2 separate regions of the Homo sapiens genome follow, and region 2 is linked to region 1. A link means that fine-mapping ties the variant in region 1 to the expression of a gene that starts in the linked region. Tissue or cell type: whole blood. Region 1 holds a variant in brackets; the other region holds the start of a gene. All regions are shown on one strand. Distances are between the middles of the regions.

Region 1 (8,193 bases):
GGGTAGAAAGATTTTCCAAAGATACTGCACCTACATGTCAATGGTCAGTCCTACGGCACATGGCTGCCTTTAATAGCTACAAAGGTATCTGGGATGGTGACTATTATAGTTCCCCAGCCTCTATTACATAATAAAAGGTAAAAGGGGGTTTTAAATGAAATTGGGGTAGCCAAAACAGAATGTCTGCCACGTATATTAATTCTGTGTATATTGTCTAATCCTAGAAAAGCACATTAGACCTAGTGAACACTCAAGGGAATGAATAAAATGTTATTAAAGTTCTATAAAATTCTACCTACATCAATAAATCTTTCTTGACCATTATAAAAGAAAAGAGATATGGACTACAGCTAAGACTCTAGAGTGAATTTCTGTTTCTGCCCATTAGTATGGTATTAGAACATCCATTCTGCCAGTTTCTTTGCCTTTTCCTAATCTGTTTTATCATCGAGCCTGTCCCAGAACCATCCACAATTTACAAATCTCCTCTTTGATACATTGCCCCAACTCCTTCAAGATGATTTTCATGTAGATCTCTTTTTCCAAATCCTCTCTGGCCCCCAGTCTCCATGCACCAATCCACTGTATTCCATAACCACAGAAGAGCTTTCAACTTTCCCCCCAAATTGTTAAACAAGTGAATGAAACATATCAAGAAAAAAAAACACACATCTTAAAAAGATGTTCCCAAATGTTTCATTAACACATGCAACTATCTTAGTTCATCACTCTTCTAAGAAGTTTTGTAGACAAAAACACAAATATAGCAGGTGCTGCAATACATGCTGAAGCAGCAGCAAAAAAAAAAAGACAAGCTCATTTATTTCAACAACAGGAGATAAACATCAATACACCCTCTTTTCAATCCTTTAATATATCTGGAATTCATGCTACTATATGGTACAGGCTGAAGATTTACATTTACTTTTAGATAAACTGTTAATTATTTCAGGATAGTTAATTCAGGAATCATTCTTTCCCCACTGATATGAAATGCTACCTCTACCATATACTGAATTCACAGGTAAGCTTCTGGGCTCTTCAGTATTATGTTTGTTTTTACATTAGGACCACACTATCACAATTATTAATAATACATTTATATGATATATTATAATTTAATATTTATTCTCAACAACATAGTATACAAGACAGACTTTAGAATCATTGCAGCAAGTGCCAAAAAGAAAAAAGAAAAAGAAACCTTTAGGAATTTGACTCATATAATATTATATTATTTATCAATTAATTTGGAAGACATTGGCATCTTATAATATTGTATTCCTTCCGATCTTGAATATTTACTCAATACTTCTGTCAAATACAACTAATAACTGATACAAAGGGGTATAATACATATCCTATTTGCTTAATTTTCCTTGAAATTTCACATGAAAAATATATATAAAATCACTTGGAAAAGAATAAACTGTGGTATGGTGTTACAGTTATGTAGGAGTAAAAGAAAAGCTTCCGTTGACCACAGTATTCACATATCATCAGTAACAATTCACCCACAGAATTCATGTACTTGAACTGGCAGTTTCACACGTCCCTATTGGTCATAATAAAGTCAGTCCTTTAAATAATCACTCAAATTTACTGGAAACAAATAACATCCTAAAACCATACCACATCGTAACATACTATTTCCTTTAATTTTTAATTAATAAATCCTGACATGATTATTTTGATAACCTGGAAAATTTACCAGCCATATCAAATCAAAATTACTATAAATGATATAACTTCACCTGTGAAAAAAATGTAATTTCTCAACCTGAATAAATTTACGAGACTCTGAAGTGATTTCCAATCATATTGTTTGACATACTTAGGTTTTAACTGAGTTTTTTTTAAAAAATGGGAGTGAGGCCCAAGTTAGAAATATTGTTCCTTATAATTTTTTAAAGTGCTTCCTACTTTCCTAAAATTTCCAATAGTCATTTTTGCATGCTATAAAAGAATGTGCAGGCTAAACCTACTTAGCTTTGTGTTATCTATCACTCAGGGAGAGTATGATGCTCCTAAATGTCAAACAGAGTGAAGGAAATAAAAAGATTTAAGTGACAGAAAAATTATAACTCATAAGAAGATATATCTAAGTTTTGGTGGGGTGTTTAGTGACTAGTAAGAGGAGCCCCTTGTAGAAGAATTTCAGTAACGCAAGCATACTAGGTAAGAAAGAATCAGATTTCCGCACTATGGAAAACAATGTTTCCTCTTTTAGTCAAATGAACAATGTATCAAGCATCACATCAACAGACTTTTAAAATGAAATAATTATGACTATGCTCATCTCTGATCTCAGGAAAAAAATTAGTCTAGATACATATAAAATATAAATTTCATATACATTTAAAATGATACTCTAAATAGCTGACATTTCTCTTAAACAATAATTTTAAAGACATATTTATGCAATAAATTTAGCATCTCACCTGTCCAGCAACAGCACTGAAGTAAGTATACACGGAGTCACCAGCTGAGGAATAAGTGTCTGAATATGCTGGCCCAGAGTATCCATCGAGGAGTATAGCTGGGCCTGTTTCTGGCACTGGCTGTCCCATCTGCATTCCTGGCACCTGAATGCTAAAATTTCCAAACTATAATAGTGAAAGGGGAGAAGGTTAGTAATATAAATACTACCTATTATCTATGAAAGTTGGATTAAAAGAAATTATTAGAAGTCCGTCAAAAAGTAAACAGTTACCAAAAGCTTATAATCTTATCACAAAAATTTTAACTACAAAATGTTAGATGTCCTACATTAAGACATAATTCAATTCATCAACATATATTACCCAGCATTAAAAGAAGTATAAAAGAAAAAAGAAAGTTACTAGCCTCTAAGAACTTAATCTAAGAGGAACATGTACAATTTTAAAAAATGTTTACCAACATCACTGAAGTAAACAAAAAGTAAAACAATGCAAGATTTTACCTAAAGTAAAACTAAGAAGTAAACCTCAAGACACATACTTAGAAGAATATATGTGTAAATACAATGAAACTTTAAGTGTCAACATTTACAATATGTTGGGTATTGTATTCTTTACAACTATTTAAACTTAAAATAAAAACTTTATATGTCAATATAAAATATGGGAAAAGGGTATATAGTTTTTCAAAAATCTTTTAAGGGGCGGGAAGCAAAATGTTTAAAGAAACTGCTGTGGTTCTGGTAGTATCCTGAGGGATGACATAGAGTTCTGTATGCTGGCCTCCCACTTGTTTCTTTTCAGCCTATTGTGACTTATTACAGTTTATATATGTGGGATTCTCTGATGTTACAGATTATGTGATCTAGTTTTAACTAAAGCCATAACAAAATGGCAATAGTAAAGATTCAAAAACATGCAAAGCAACATGAAAGGCTTGGACATGAAAATATTGTCTAAGCCTTTCCTTACCCACATTATGTAGTAATAATAATAATGATCAATTTTGACTCATTTGAAACTGTCAAGAGGACAACTTGAAATATAAATTTATGTAAACCGTGTTTAGGGATGAACCTTGTTGGCCAGGGGCCCCAGTTCTCCTCCACATGGGCCCTTTCACATGGCTCTTCCACTTTTTCATAGCTTGGCAGTCAGCTTCTAAGAGAGAGAAAGAGAAGCTGCCAGTCCTCTTAAAATATTGAGTCTGGAACTGCCATGGTGTCTTTTCTACTGTATTCTACCAGATGAAGGTGAAACAGGCCCAATCCAGATTGAAGAAAGTGGAGAAATAGTCTGTGCCTTTCGATAAGGGGAGTGGTAAAGAATTGGTAACCATCATTAATCTGACCACCAGGTTCTCAAATTATGGGACTGGGGAAAGCTAATGCTGCAAATTGGGAAGGGAAAACAGATTAAAAGTTATTCCTAAGGACAGATTCTTCATCTTTGAATTGATTTTGTATGCTATTTCTTGTGTGAAAATCTAATCTGTTTAAGTTTTCTGTGCTTAAAATGTTTTTTTATTATTGAAAACACTGAAGCTTGTATAATACAACATGTACAAACAAAAACATGTAACGAAGTTTTAGATTGTTTCATTTCCTGTGACCAAAGTGAGAAACAAAGAAAAAAGTCCTTTACATTGAGTTATAATTTTTATTCGTATACAATTAGTAAAAAAAAGAAAATAATACAATTTTTATAAACAATTCTTAAAAGAAGAAAGTAAAAATCTATTGGAAATGCATCTCCTACAGAGATAAATCATGCACTTAATTAGATAAAAGTATACTATCAAAACAATTAGGTCTAGCAGCTGACATTTTATATTTTGTTAAAAGAATATAAGAAACATTAATAAGGCATGGGTTTCCTTTAACAGGATTTATAAACGTCTCAACTATCTTATTAATATTCTCCTACTAAAGAAATCATGTAAGTTTTATCCCAAAATTTTATCCAATGTATCTTAAAATATTTCAATTACATTTTTTAAAATCAGTGCCTCTAATCTATATATTGCTTCAGCTATTGAGGGTACTTCTCTTTCCGGCGATTAATAATGAGCATGACAACAGCTGAAAAGAGTTGTTTATTTTAAATTCATGGAAAAGGGGATTTAAATATTCAAAACACATACAGACGTTCTCTTTATTGTGTCGTGGAACTCTCCATCAAATTCAAGCACTCTGACAAAAGTGGGTAAGGAAGCACCAAATTATTTGAATGAAAATGTATTACTCTTGCCACCTCACTCTACCATACATATATGAATTCAGAGCATACCAAGAGGAGTAAATATACAAACTTCTAACAGATAGCTTCAACCAAATGAAAATACGTATACGCTAGGGACGTTTTTAAAGACCCACAGGTTTATGCTATCTTGATTAATCTTCGAAGGGGCTTTACTTTCCTTAGGTACCTTAAACTTCCTTCCTAAATTTAAGGACTGAGGAGGCATAGGCATTACAAAGTGGACGGTGCCAGAGGGGATTGAGGCAAGTCTTAAGGAAAGCAAATCAATTTTAGGAACAAGTATGTGTGGAAGTTGAGGACCTGGAAATTCATATCCTAAAACAACAACAACAACCACAACCACAACCAC[C/AACCACCACCACCACC]ACCACCACCACCACCACCACCACCACCACCACCACCATGAACTCCAAGGGGTAGGAGTAACTCTTTTGAAGACCACAACCATAGCCCAAAGTCAAGTCCTATATTAAAATCAGTAAAACACAATTTCTCTTTTTAGGTAAAAAACAAATAGAAAATATATTATATTCTACCCACACCGCAATGGATCAAACTACTGTTAACTCTGTTAACACAGCGTGTAGATCACTGACATCGATACTAAAGGTTTGGGCTCCTTTCTGAAAAGAAGGGGCTAGCCACCAGGACTCTACGATTATAACTTGCAACTCCCAAAGGTGATGCAGGATAAAAGTTATAACAAAGAGTAACTTCCCCCCGCCTGGGGGCGAGCGGGGGAGTCTAGAACAGATTGCCCTTCGTATAACAGTAAAGATTAGGAGTTATTTACCGTACACCTTAATTTATTCATAAGGAACTTAAAGAACAAGAAGTGGTCAGGAAATTCAAAAAGAGGATCTCTAGCAACACTGAGTGGGGGGCGGGGGAGGGAAGTACCACAAACGATTACTGGAACAAGAAGAGGGTGGCTTGTTCCTCCATTCCAGGAAATAAATTTCCAAACACACATTACTCCCTCGGCTCCACCAGGACGCTCCTCGAGGGTCCTCAACGACCAGAAAACCTGCGGCTCCAAGTCAGCCCAGGATCAATGCTCGCCCAGGCCCTGGCCCCCAACAGCCCCGGAATCCGGCGCCGCCGAGTACCAGGCGCGGACGCAGGGAGCAGGAGCCAAGGGCGGACCCGCACGTTGGCACCGCCCCCGGGGGCGCCACACCCCGCGAGGAAGAGGGACACGACCAAGCGGCTGGGACTCACCCCTCCTCCGTATCCCGGGTAGGCCATGACGAGCGGGACGAGCGGAGCGAGCGTCACCCTCGAGTCGCGTCCGCAGTGCTGGGAGAAAAAGCACAGGCGCAGGTGCAAGGAGGCGCAGCTGCAGGTGAGGCTGAAAGGCGCACTAACCGCACAGTTCACTCCTCCGAACCCGCCCCCTTCCGCAGGCCAGCCCCGCCCTGCACGGTTCCGATTGGCTGAGTCCCACACTTTGGAGCCAACTCAGCTGCAGTCCGCCCCTTCCCGCAGCCTAGCCCCACCCATCTCTGCCCTGATTGGCTACACCCCATCGGGAGCCCTCCAGTCCCTGCTCGACTCTTACTGGCTCCCTCAGGTTCTCGCGCGCTCTCCTTCTAAATCCCGAAGAAGCCTTGGCTGCTGCAACGGAATTCCCACTCTCTGTGGAAAGGTCTTCTACAAGCCTTCAACTCCTCAAGTTACTTTTCTTTCTAGAAACCCCAAACCGGCAAGTCTGTGACTTATTTTAACCAGCCCTCCACGCTTTTGAGCTGGACTTCAAAGACCCATCTGTGAATTTCAAAATTTTGCAGTTACATTTACTTTTGTGTAGTGTTGATGTCACATCAAAACTTTGCAACCAGGACCACACCTGTGGTCCAGGAGGAGTGCTTCTGCGCCAAAACCCACTTGAGGCCACATTGGACGAACAGGTTATTGATTCTGTTTGGTAGATAAATGGTGACCTGAATTGTGGCATGTTGGCAAATAAACAGGATATCTAGTTAAAGTTGATTTCCAAATAAACTTTTTTAGTGTAAGTATGTCCCAAATATTGCACAGGACGTGAACATACACTAAAAACTTATTTGCTGTTTATACACTGATAATATAGACGGTGTCCTGTATATAATCTGACTCAGCCTTTGGGCAAACTCTTGTTAAATGTTCAATTACTTTGGCTTATTAAGTAATAGCAATGGACAAGTCTGATTTATCTCTGGAACTCAAATGAATTTTGTAGCTCTGACTTTAAAAGGACAAGGCAGCTGTAGCTTTGGCTTATGAACAAATGAAAAAACCAAATGATATTATTTTGAGTTATCTCTGAAGAACAAGAGAAGGGCTAACATGTTTCTTAAAAATAAGGCTATCAAAAAAATGTTAACTATTCACAAAGGAAATCAGCCTTGCAGAGCTGAGTATCTGTTGTTCAGCTATGCTACAGAAGAGGATGTTGGACCTTGTGAAACAATTCTCAGAGGAAACAGCAGAGAGAAAGGAAGATTGCCGATGTCCTAGCTACTCTTGGGAAAGTGTCTGTAAGTTCCTTCAATGCTGTAAGAAATACTTAAGCCACTAAGGTTAAATTATTGGCATAAATAAATAGAGGGGAAGGGTAAAACCTACGTGGCAAAAGGGAAAAATGCATGGCTTATGAAGGTATCAAATGATAAAGCGCTAGAAAGAACAAACCATTGCAAAATTTTATTCCAACGGATTAACTACATATTCAAAGAACTGCTTAGGAAGGATTGAGTGTTTACATTTACAATGTTAGTCTGATTCTGTGGTCAAAATTTTTGTGCATCTTGTTTTCATCAAAATAGCCTTATTGATGCAGCTGCATTTGTGCAGTTGGGAGTTAAGGCCCCATGGGTTTCTTGCCTTTCTGCACATTTAATTGCAAAGATAGTATTTCCTGCCAGGGCAAAGTTTGGGTACGTTTGCTAGCAGCCTTCTTAGGACTTTCCTAAGCTTGGAGTTCTTCCAGTTGCATAACAAACACAGTGCATGTACAACACCCATCTGGCAGCTCCTCTTCGCCTTGTGGGACTTCAGAACGAGGGGAATCTATGGAAGTATGAAGCTCATGGTGCCTGTTGTGCTTTGAGTAATAAAGTTATTTGTCTCAGACTCAGGAATCTCACACATTCTGCCAACTTCCATGAAACTGTGGCACTCTACTTGTTTGCTTATAACTAGGGTAAAATATCAGATCCTTCATAGTTCCTGCCAATATATCTCTTAACTTAGAGAAAGGGCTACCAAAGAAAGTTCCTACCATGAAGATGCAGAGGAGGACTTTGAACAACACAGCATCTCTCTCTCTAAAACTAGTGTTTCAAATTTTAAATATTCTAGTATAAAAATTCAAATAAGGCCATAGAGTTTTTTTTAAATAACAGTAATGTTAATTTGCCTCCATGAGTCAAGTTAATACTGTATGAACAATAGCATTTTATGAAAATGTCATGTCTATTTAAAAAATTTGCTTTTTAAATATTTTTCTTTTAATAAAATCCTTC
Region 2 (8,167 bases), 28 kb after region 1:
AGTATCCTTTTAATAAACTTTCCTGCTAAATCAGCCTATCAGTTTCAGTTAAATGGCTGAAAGTCTTGCTTAAAGTCTCAGTTAAATGGCTAGCTATTATATAGTGTTTATATGTATGTGTGTATATATATATATATATATATATATATATATATATATATATATATATATATGTAACTAAATTTTTCCTTTATAAATTGTGCATTCTTTGAAGACTAGCACCGCACCATCTCTTCTTTAATTTTTATATAAGCGTAGTGGGCTGGAGTCACATATTGGGCACATAAACATGCCAGGCTGGTGCTAGTGTGTTACAGTCTATCCTTAGAACAAACTTCTGACATGATACCAGAATCTTTCCATTTTACAACTGATGTATTTGAGGTGATTTTTCAAAGCACAGCAATTAAGAAATAGTATTGAGATGTGAACTCAGACAGCCTGAACTCAGAGTCTCTGTGCTTAACCATACCCCACACTGCCAGGTTAAGAGCATCTAACACTTTAAATTACACAAAGCAGGCTCATTATTGATACAAATGAGCAAACAAGTAAAGGAACAGAACAACAATTCCAGGGTTTCTCACTAAACTAAAATTATTGTCATTTTCTTTGAAAAAGACATTATTGCTATGCATGGTCGTTAAATTGTAGTGGCAGCTCATATTGTTACTACTTCTTAAAAACTCAAATGAAAAGTTGCATAACAATGGGAAAATACATAGTTCAGCAGGATCTCCTGCCTCAAAAGAGAAAGGAAAAAGAAACTTACATTTGGGAACTGGTGAAAAGGATTAAAATGAAACCTAGTAGAAGAAACTTGACAGAGGAAAACAATTAATTACTCAAGTGAAAAACAGAAAATAAACTAAATCATGATGCAAAAAATATAGATGAAAAAAGGATACATTGTGAGAGATTGTGTCTTGGCTTTTGTTTCCTTAACCTCCTTTCTCCAAAAAGGGTCCCATCAAGACTATGGGAGATTCCTAAAAAAGAAGTCCCTTCCACCCACACCTAATCCTCATCACTCAGACCTCATCCAGCAGAGAGACTCCTACTTGTGAGAAAATATGAATTGTTATTGTTGGGTATTATGTGATGCTAATAGGGTTAGAGGAGGATGACTATTTGGGAAATCAACCTGTGAAACTGTAATATACATTATTATGTAGATTTACTATGGTCTTCAGGGCATTTATCCTCACCTGCACATTGCATATTTTTTAGTCATTACTTACCATCTATCTTCCCACTCCCATTAGAATGTGAACTCCATAAAAGTAGGAGCTTTGTTAATTTTATTAACTGCACCTAGATCAGTGCTGGTCATGTAATAGATACTTAATAAACATATTTTAAATGACTAGATGATACAATGAATGATATAATTTGAATGCCAAATATTTAAATATCTTTGGTTTAAATGTTTATTATTTGAGAACAGGTCAAATACCAAACATTTGATCCTTTCTCTTCCAGAGCAACAATTAAGTGGTATGAAGAAAATAACATTAACTGGTTCCCCATATTCAGTCAGCAACCCCTTCTCATTCCCCCATGTTTGAAACCAAGAAACAGAAGGATAAGTGCCAGGAAAAAGAATGTTTTTTGGTTTGTTAGTTTGTGCTTTAACATGTTGAATAAAACCCACTGGCAGCTGGGGGATAGGAGTATGTTTTTGCAACAGCCTTAAAAGATATTTTCATAGACCCAATACTTAAAATTAATAATTTGAGTGCTTTTGTAGAAACATCTAATTGGATTATCCTCTATCTGGGTACAAGGTCATCTCCCAAAATTAAGTGAAAAAGGAGTAGGGTTCTGTGAAGAAACAGAAAAGAACAGTATAAATCAGGCCTACCTGCAAGCCCAAGGTTTCATTTACTTCAACTTTCAGTGTATTTAACATTATGCCAGCTGCTATGGTCAACTCAAATACAACTCCCAGGAGAGATGTCATCAAGAGCCCACCAGTTGTGAGTAGTGTACTAGTTACTATGTAAATATATCCCTTCTTCAAGCAGCTTACAATCCTTCAGGGGTAGAAAAAGCCTTGCTACATAAGATAATTAGAGAATAAAATAAGACATGTTACCATAAAGTGCTCATTTGGATATTTTGTATGCCCCTAGTAAACACTCACCAAGACTCTGTACTTCTATTATCCTGTTCAAAGCACTATCAGGTTTTCCTGGCCTACACAGACTTTATTGAATGTACTTTGCTAACAGATTATTTTTCCTAAATATGTCTCTTTGATAACCTAAATGATCTCTCCATCCTTTATATAATTCTGGACCATGAGATTCTAGTTATGGTGCGTATGTGCCTACCACCCACAGTCACATGTGGCTACAGAATGCCTTCAGAATGAGTAGTAACCTTAAGGACTCACATTTATGTGGCTTCTGTACCAAAATGAAGCTGCCATTTTTCAGTGTGAATATGTTTTTTTTCTCTCATGACATAGACAAATGTTGATGTTTACTACAAGTTGGTACATTAGTTGCTAATTAAGTTCCTAGCTGCTCCAGCCAAAACTTGCTGTATTGAATCCAAGAAAAGAATGGCAGCTATATCAAAAATAAGTTGTTGGGGGATTTTTTTGTTTTGTTTTATTAAAGGAAAGTTGTATATTAAAGAATATAGGGAACTTACAAGCTGGGATCTAGGAAACTTTAAGTCTTGGCTTCCTTCTAAGCTGAGTTGGTGGTTCAAGTCCATCCACATCTGTTACCAGGTCCTGGTCAAAGCTGCATAAATACCAGCAATCTAAATATGAGGCAGTAAAGTTAACTGTTTATTGTTACTCACTTTTTCGAACCCACCTCCAAATTCCCAGGGAAACAAGTTAGTGTTTGGGAACCCACAGGAGGTCAGGTTTATTTTAGGAAGGACTTCCTCCTGTCTTCTCCACATCTCTGCAAAGATGTCTTCTGAGCTTCATCTCTCACCTGTCCCTCGCAGTCTCACCACCCTCAGCCAGGCCTGCCTACATTCACCAGCCGAGGGTAACTCCCTGTTCACGTCCGGGTCTGTGGCAGTTTCTGTTCACTTCCCCTTTGGAAAGTCCCAAATCACATGCTTTTATGCCCTGCACATTTTGGCCTACAAAGGACCTTATTGTTAAGGCAGAACCTGCTGGGAAAACAAAATATCCGCCGGAGGAGCTTTGCTAGAGCGTTGGTCTTGGTGTCAGAGAGAATTCGCTTTCCTTTTCTGTTTCCCGCGGTGTCCTTAACCAAAGGCCTCCTCTCTTCACCCGCCCCGACCAAAAGGTGGCGTCTCCCTGAGGAAACTCCCTCCCCGCCAGGCAGATTACGTTTACAAAGTCCTGAGAAGAGAATCGAAACAGAAACCAAAGTCAGGCAAACTCTGTAAGAACTGCCTGACAGAAAGCTGGACTCAAAGCTCCTACCCGAGTGTGCAGCAGGATCGCCCCGGTCCGGGACCCCAGGCGCACACCGCAGAGTCCAAAGTGCCGCGCCTGCCGGCCGCACCTGCCTGCCGCGGCCCCGCGCGCCGCCCCGCTGCCCACCTGCCCGCCTGCCCACCTGCCCAGGTGCGAGTGCAGCCCCGCGCGCCGGCCTGAGAGCCCTGTGGACAACCTCGTCATTGTCAGGCACAGAGCGGTAGACCCTGCTTCTCTAAGTGGGCAGCGGACAGCGGCACGCACATTTCACCTGTCCCGCAGACAACAGCACCATCTGCTTGGGAGAACCCTCTCCCTTCTCTGAGAAAGAAAGATGTCGAATGGGTATTCCACAGACGAGAATTTCCGCTATCTCATCTCGTGCTTCAGGGCCAGGGTGAAAATGTACATCCAGGTGGAGCCTGTGCTGGACTACCTGACCTTTCTGCCTGCAGAGGTGAAGGAGCAGATTCAGAGGACAGTCGCCACCTCCGGGAACATGCAGGCAGTTGAACTGCTGCTGAGCACCTTGGAGAAGGGAGTCTGGCACCTTGGTTGGACTCGGGAATTCGTGGAGGCCCTCCGGAGAACCGGCAGCCCTCTGGCCGCCCGCTACATGAACCCTGAGCTCACGGACTTGCCCTCTCCATCGTTTGAGAACGCTCATGATGAATATCTCCAACTGCTGAACCTCCTTCAGCCCACTCTGGTGGACAAGCTTCTAGTTAGAGACGTCTTGGATAAGTGCATGGAGGAGGAACTGTTGACAATTGAAGACAGAAACCGGGTAGGTGTCTGTTCAGATGGAGCTAGCCTTTTAGGCAGATTTTGCAAAGCAGGCTTCCTTGTGCGTTTGCCCCTTTCCAAATGTGCTTGACCTCTTTGGGCAAATCTAGTTTCTTCCTTTGAGAAGACAACATCTAGGCACTTTAAGACAATTTTAAAAATTTAAACACAAAAGAACTACTTTTCTAATGTTTTCACTGAAGTAAAAAGGAGTTAACTCTAGAATCGTAATGTGTATTAACAGGTAACTTTTATTGAACACTTACTATGTGCAGTTGGTATCATTTTCAAAATGTATTACTACAGTTCATGTTCAGAGTAACCCACTGAGGCTCCTAATGTTATTAACTCCATTTTACAGATGAGAAACCTGAGGCAGGTTAAATAATTTGTCCAAGGTCTCCCAGGAAAAACAGTGGCAGAGCTAAGAATTTAGCTTGTGATAGTGTTGAATGTTTTTCTTATTTAATGTAGTTCCATGGAGCAGGGGTTAGTAAACTACGGCCCATGGGCTAAATCAAGCCTGCTACTGTTTTTTTCAGGCCCACAGGCTAAGAATGGTCTTCAGATTTTTCAATTTTTAATTTTCAGTGTTCATAAAGTTTTATTGGAACACAGTCATGCTCGTTTGTTTACATATTGCTTGTGGCTGCTTTTCTACTCCAAAGGCAATTGGATGGAGACTGTGTGCCCTTAAAGCCAAAAATATTTATTATCTGGCATTTTAGAGAAAAAGTTTTCCAATCTTTGCCCTACATTACACTTTGTGCCATTTAGTCTTAGCCCAAATGGGTAAATTGCAATCACACACACACACACACACACACACACACACACACCCTTTTTCTTTAATCAAAGTTTCAACATTCTTTGAGAATCAAAATTTAGAAACAATTCATTGAAAGAATGTGTTGCTAGTTTCAGTTTTTCATGTTAGTGAAGAAACTCATTTTTCTTAAGGTAGCATTTTGACAGGGCGAATTTTACTGATGACTTTACATTGAATGTGATATGAATTATTTTTTGATAAGTGAAGATGTACTGTGATGTGTATAAATGCTGACCTGTTTGAATGTGACTTATTCAGGCTCGTAAGTCAAAAGTCTTGTTTTGGAAGACATGTAGACAAATAAAGCCATGACTAAAAGTCAAAGGCTTTGTCTACACCACTCTATGATTTTCACATGGTTTTTTTCTCTCTCTCTCTTTTGGGTCATCCATTGTTTGTATATTCATACAAACTTCTGGGCATTTGATTGATTTGCTATAGCCTATGATGCAATTTAGTCTTTAGTGAATAAAGTTAGTGATCTTTTGTAGACTTGACAGACACAGGGCCTGTCCAAAGACCCAAACATGCATCTAATTTTGATGGCCAGTTTTCCCAACAAGTAAATTACTTTGCACTGTTGTCTGTAATGTTTATGTCGTTTTGTGTATTGAGAACCAGCTAGAACGCATTATAGTAGTCCAGCTGGATATGACAAATGTGTACATCACTGTGGCAGAATCTTAATTTGGAAGAAAGTATGCAGCCTTCAAGCCAGCTGGAGATGGAAGATGGCATTTCCAGCCACAGTAGCTGTTAGAAGTCCAGAAGCAACAGAGTCCAGTAACACCACAAAGCTGTTTATGTTTGGTGGGTATGATGTCCCGATTGCCAGCGAAACAGCACTTCTCCCTATTTACTCTAAATACTTCTGCCTATCAGCATCACTTTTGTCTTGCCTGGATTGAATTTCCGCCAGCTAGATTTTATCCAAGTTCTTGATTCTGGCAAGCTTGGAGGCAGCTAGCAGTAATGCAAGGGATTTGACACAAAGAAGATATAGAGTAACGGGACTTTTGTGTACTGGTAGCAGTTAAGGCCAAAACAACCCAAATTCTCCCTCTGATTCACATTTCAAAGGAGGCCCCAAAAGACTGAGCAGCTATAAATTTGAGGCTCTCTAGGAAGCAATAGTTTCTCTGTGAGAGTGTGGAATAATTTTTGTGTGCATCATTTACATGTATTATCAGTTCCAAAACTAAGATATGGTGGACAATGAGACGGAAGCATTAAGTTTGGTAGAATAATCTATATTGAGGTGGTGGTCATTGACAAATGTTTATCTTACAGCAGCAAAGTGTGATAAGACTGTAGAAGGGGAACACATGGATTTGAGGTCCATCTTGGCTTCTTACTATATGCGTTACTTTGGGCCAAATTACTGAAGTTCCCTGATGCTACATTTACCTGTGAAAATGGACATCATAAAATTTCTCACAGTATTTTAGTCAACATCAAATCAGAAATAGTGTTTATGAAAAAGCTTATAAATCAGAGCTATTTGATATGATAATGGTGTTGACTTTTGTAACCATTCATCTGGTTACATTTCTGTGTAAATTTAAGTTTGAGAGATTGAGGTAAATTCCCCATGTCGCAATTGAGATATACTTCTTAAAGTCCCTAGATTATACTGATTTGAAAAAGAAATTACCTCTTTCATCCCAGAACCTAACTAGGATTAGGTAGAGGGTTGGTGTTTAGTAAGCATTGATTACTTGATTGATAGACTAATTGAATTTATTTCTGAAAGTGTCTGGAATAAGCGTTGAAAACACATGACGTATTGAATTGTGTTGCCAGGCGTTAGAGAATGGATGAATGATGAAAATAAGATTTCCAAATTTGCTTTTTTGAAGGCTTAAAATAGCATTTAACTAAGTAATCAAGACTTCTATAAAATGGTCTTGTATTTTCATTCTTTTTCTGTTTCCCCATAGACATTTTCTACTTGATCTATTATTTTAATTTAGGATTCCCACCCCATTTCCTAGCCCCTGCCCGTAATTACAGCAGGCCTTCTGAAAATGACTTTATACATAGGTTTGTGTCCAGCAAGTACCCAAAAACTTATTCATTCATTCACTCATTCATTCAGTTTGAATTTATTGAGTGGCATCTTTGTGCCGGATGCCATGCTAGTGGTGAAAAGATAGGAGAAAAACACAGAGACTGTTTTGTCCTTTCGTGAAGTTGTGTTGTAGTGTTAATTAGTGTTGATAAAAGAATGTCTACTGTAGGCCAGTCATGGTGGCTTACGCCTGTAATCCCAGCACTTTGGGAGGCCGAGGAGGGTGGCTCTCGAGGTCAGGAGATGGAGACCATCCTGGCTAACACGGTAAAACTCCGTCTCTACTAAAAATACAAAAAAATTAGCTGGGTGTGGTGGTGGGAGCCTGTAGTCCCAGTTACTCGGGAGGCTGAGGCAGGAGAATGGCATGAACCTGGGAGGCGGAGCTTGCAGTGAGCTGAGATGGCGCCACTGCACTCCACCCTGGTGACAGAGCGAGACTCCATCTAATAAGAAAGAGAGAAAGAAAAAGAAAGAAAGAAAGAAAGAAAGAAAGAAAGAAAGAAAGAAAGAAAGAAAGAAAGAAAGAAAGAAAGAAAAGAAAGAAAGAAAGAAAGGAGGGAGGGAGGGAGGGAGGGAGGGAGGGAAGGAAGGAAGAAAGGAAGGAAGGAAAGAAGAATGTCTACTGTATACAAGGGACTATTCTAAATACTAGAGTTTCAGCAATAAATATATGCCATTTTATCAATCATTATAATAAAGCAATCCTTAATGGTAAGGGGGTACCCCTGTACTGCCTTGCTCCTCTTTTAGGATGCTAAGTTACAATTTGGCATTGTTACATCTTAGTTATAACTAAGTTACAACTTGGCACACCCATCAATTTAGGCAGTCATGAACTCTGGGAACGAAAGTGATCATATAAACATTTCCATAGTGTCTTAATAATCAAGCTGAACAGCTAAAGAGAGATGCATGTTTCATCCCTGGCCAGTTCAGAACACAATGCATCTGTAGTCCTGGAGACTCCACACACCTTCCATTTACACAGAAGAACCAGAGATGCCATGACTAGTCCACCTAAGAACAGTCCAGTTCTCCCAACATGAAGTTGAGCACCCAAGTC

Evidence for each region. PIP is the estimated chance that this variant, and not a neighbour inherited with it, causes the effect.
Region 2: it holds the start of IFIH1, and the variant in region 1 is fine-mapped to the expression of IFIH1 in whole blood (INTERVAL, PIP above 0.99).

What each region holds. Positions count from the first base shown.
Region 1 is chr2:162,341,991-162,350,183 of GRCh38, reverse strand. GCA (grancalcin) reads right to left here and starts at 6,052. Exons shown (of 8, transcript NM_012198.5): 1 at 5,909-6,052; 2 at 2,442-2,606. The coding sequence starts at 5,935. RefSeq lists silencers at 5,746-5,825, 6,066-6,215 and enhancers at 6,244-6,413, 6,266-6,495. The variant C/AACCACCACCACCACC (reference allele first, on the strand shown) is at 5,053.
Region 2 is chr2:162,313,890-162,322,056 of GRCh38, reverse strand. It overlaps IFIH1 (interferon induced with helicase C domain 1), which reads left to right and starts at 3,373. Exons shown (of 16, transcript NM_022168.4): 1 at 3,373-4,202. The coding sequence starts at 3,750. It also overlaps a transcript of GCA not described here. RefSeq lists enhancers at 2,141-3,340, 2,909-3,458 and a silencer at 3,489-3,578.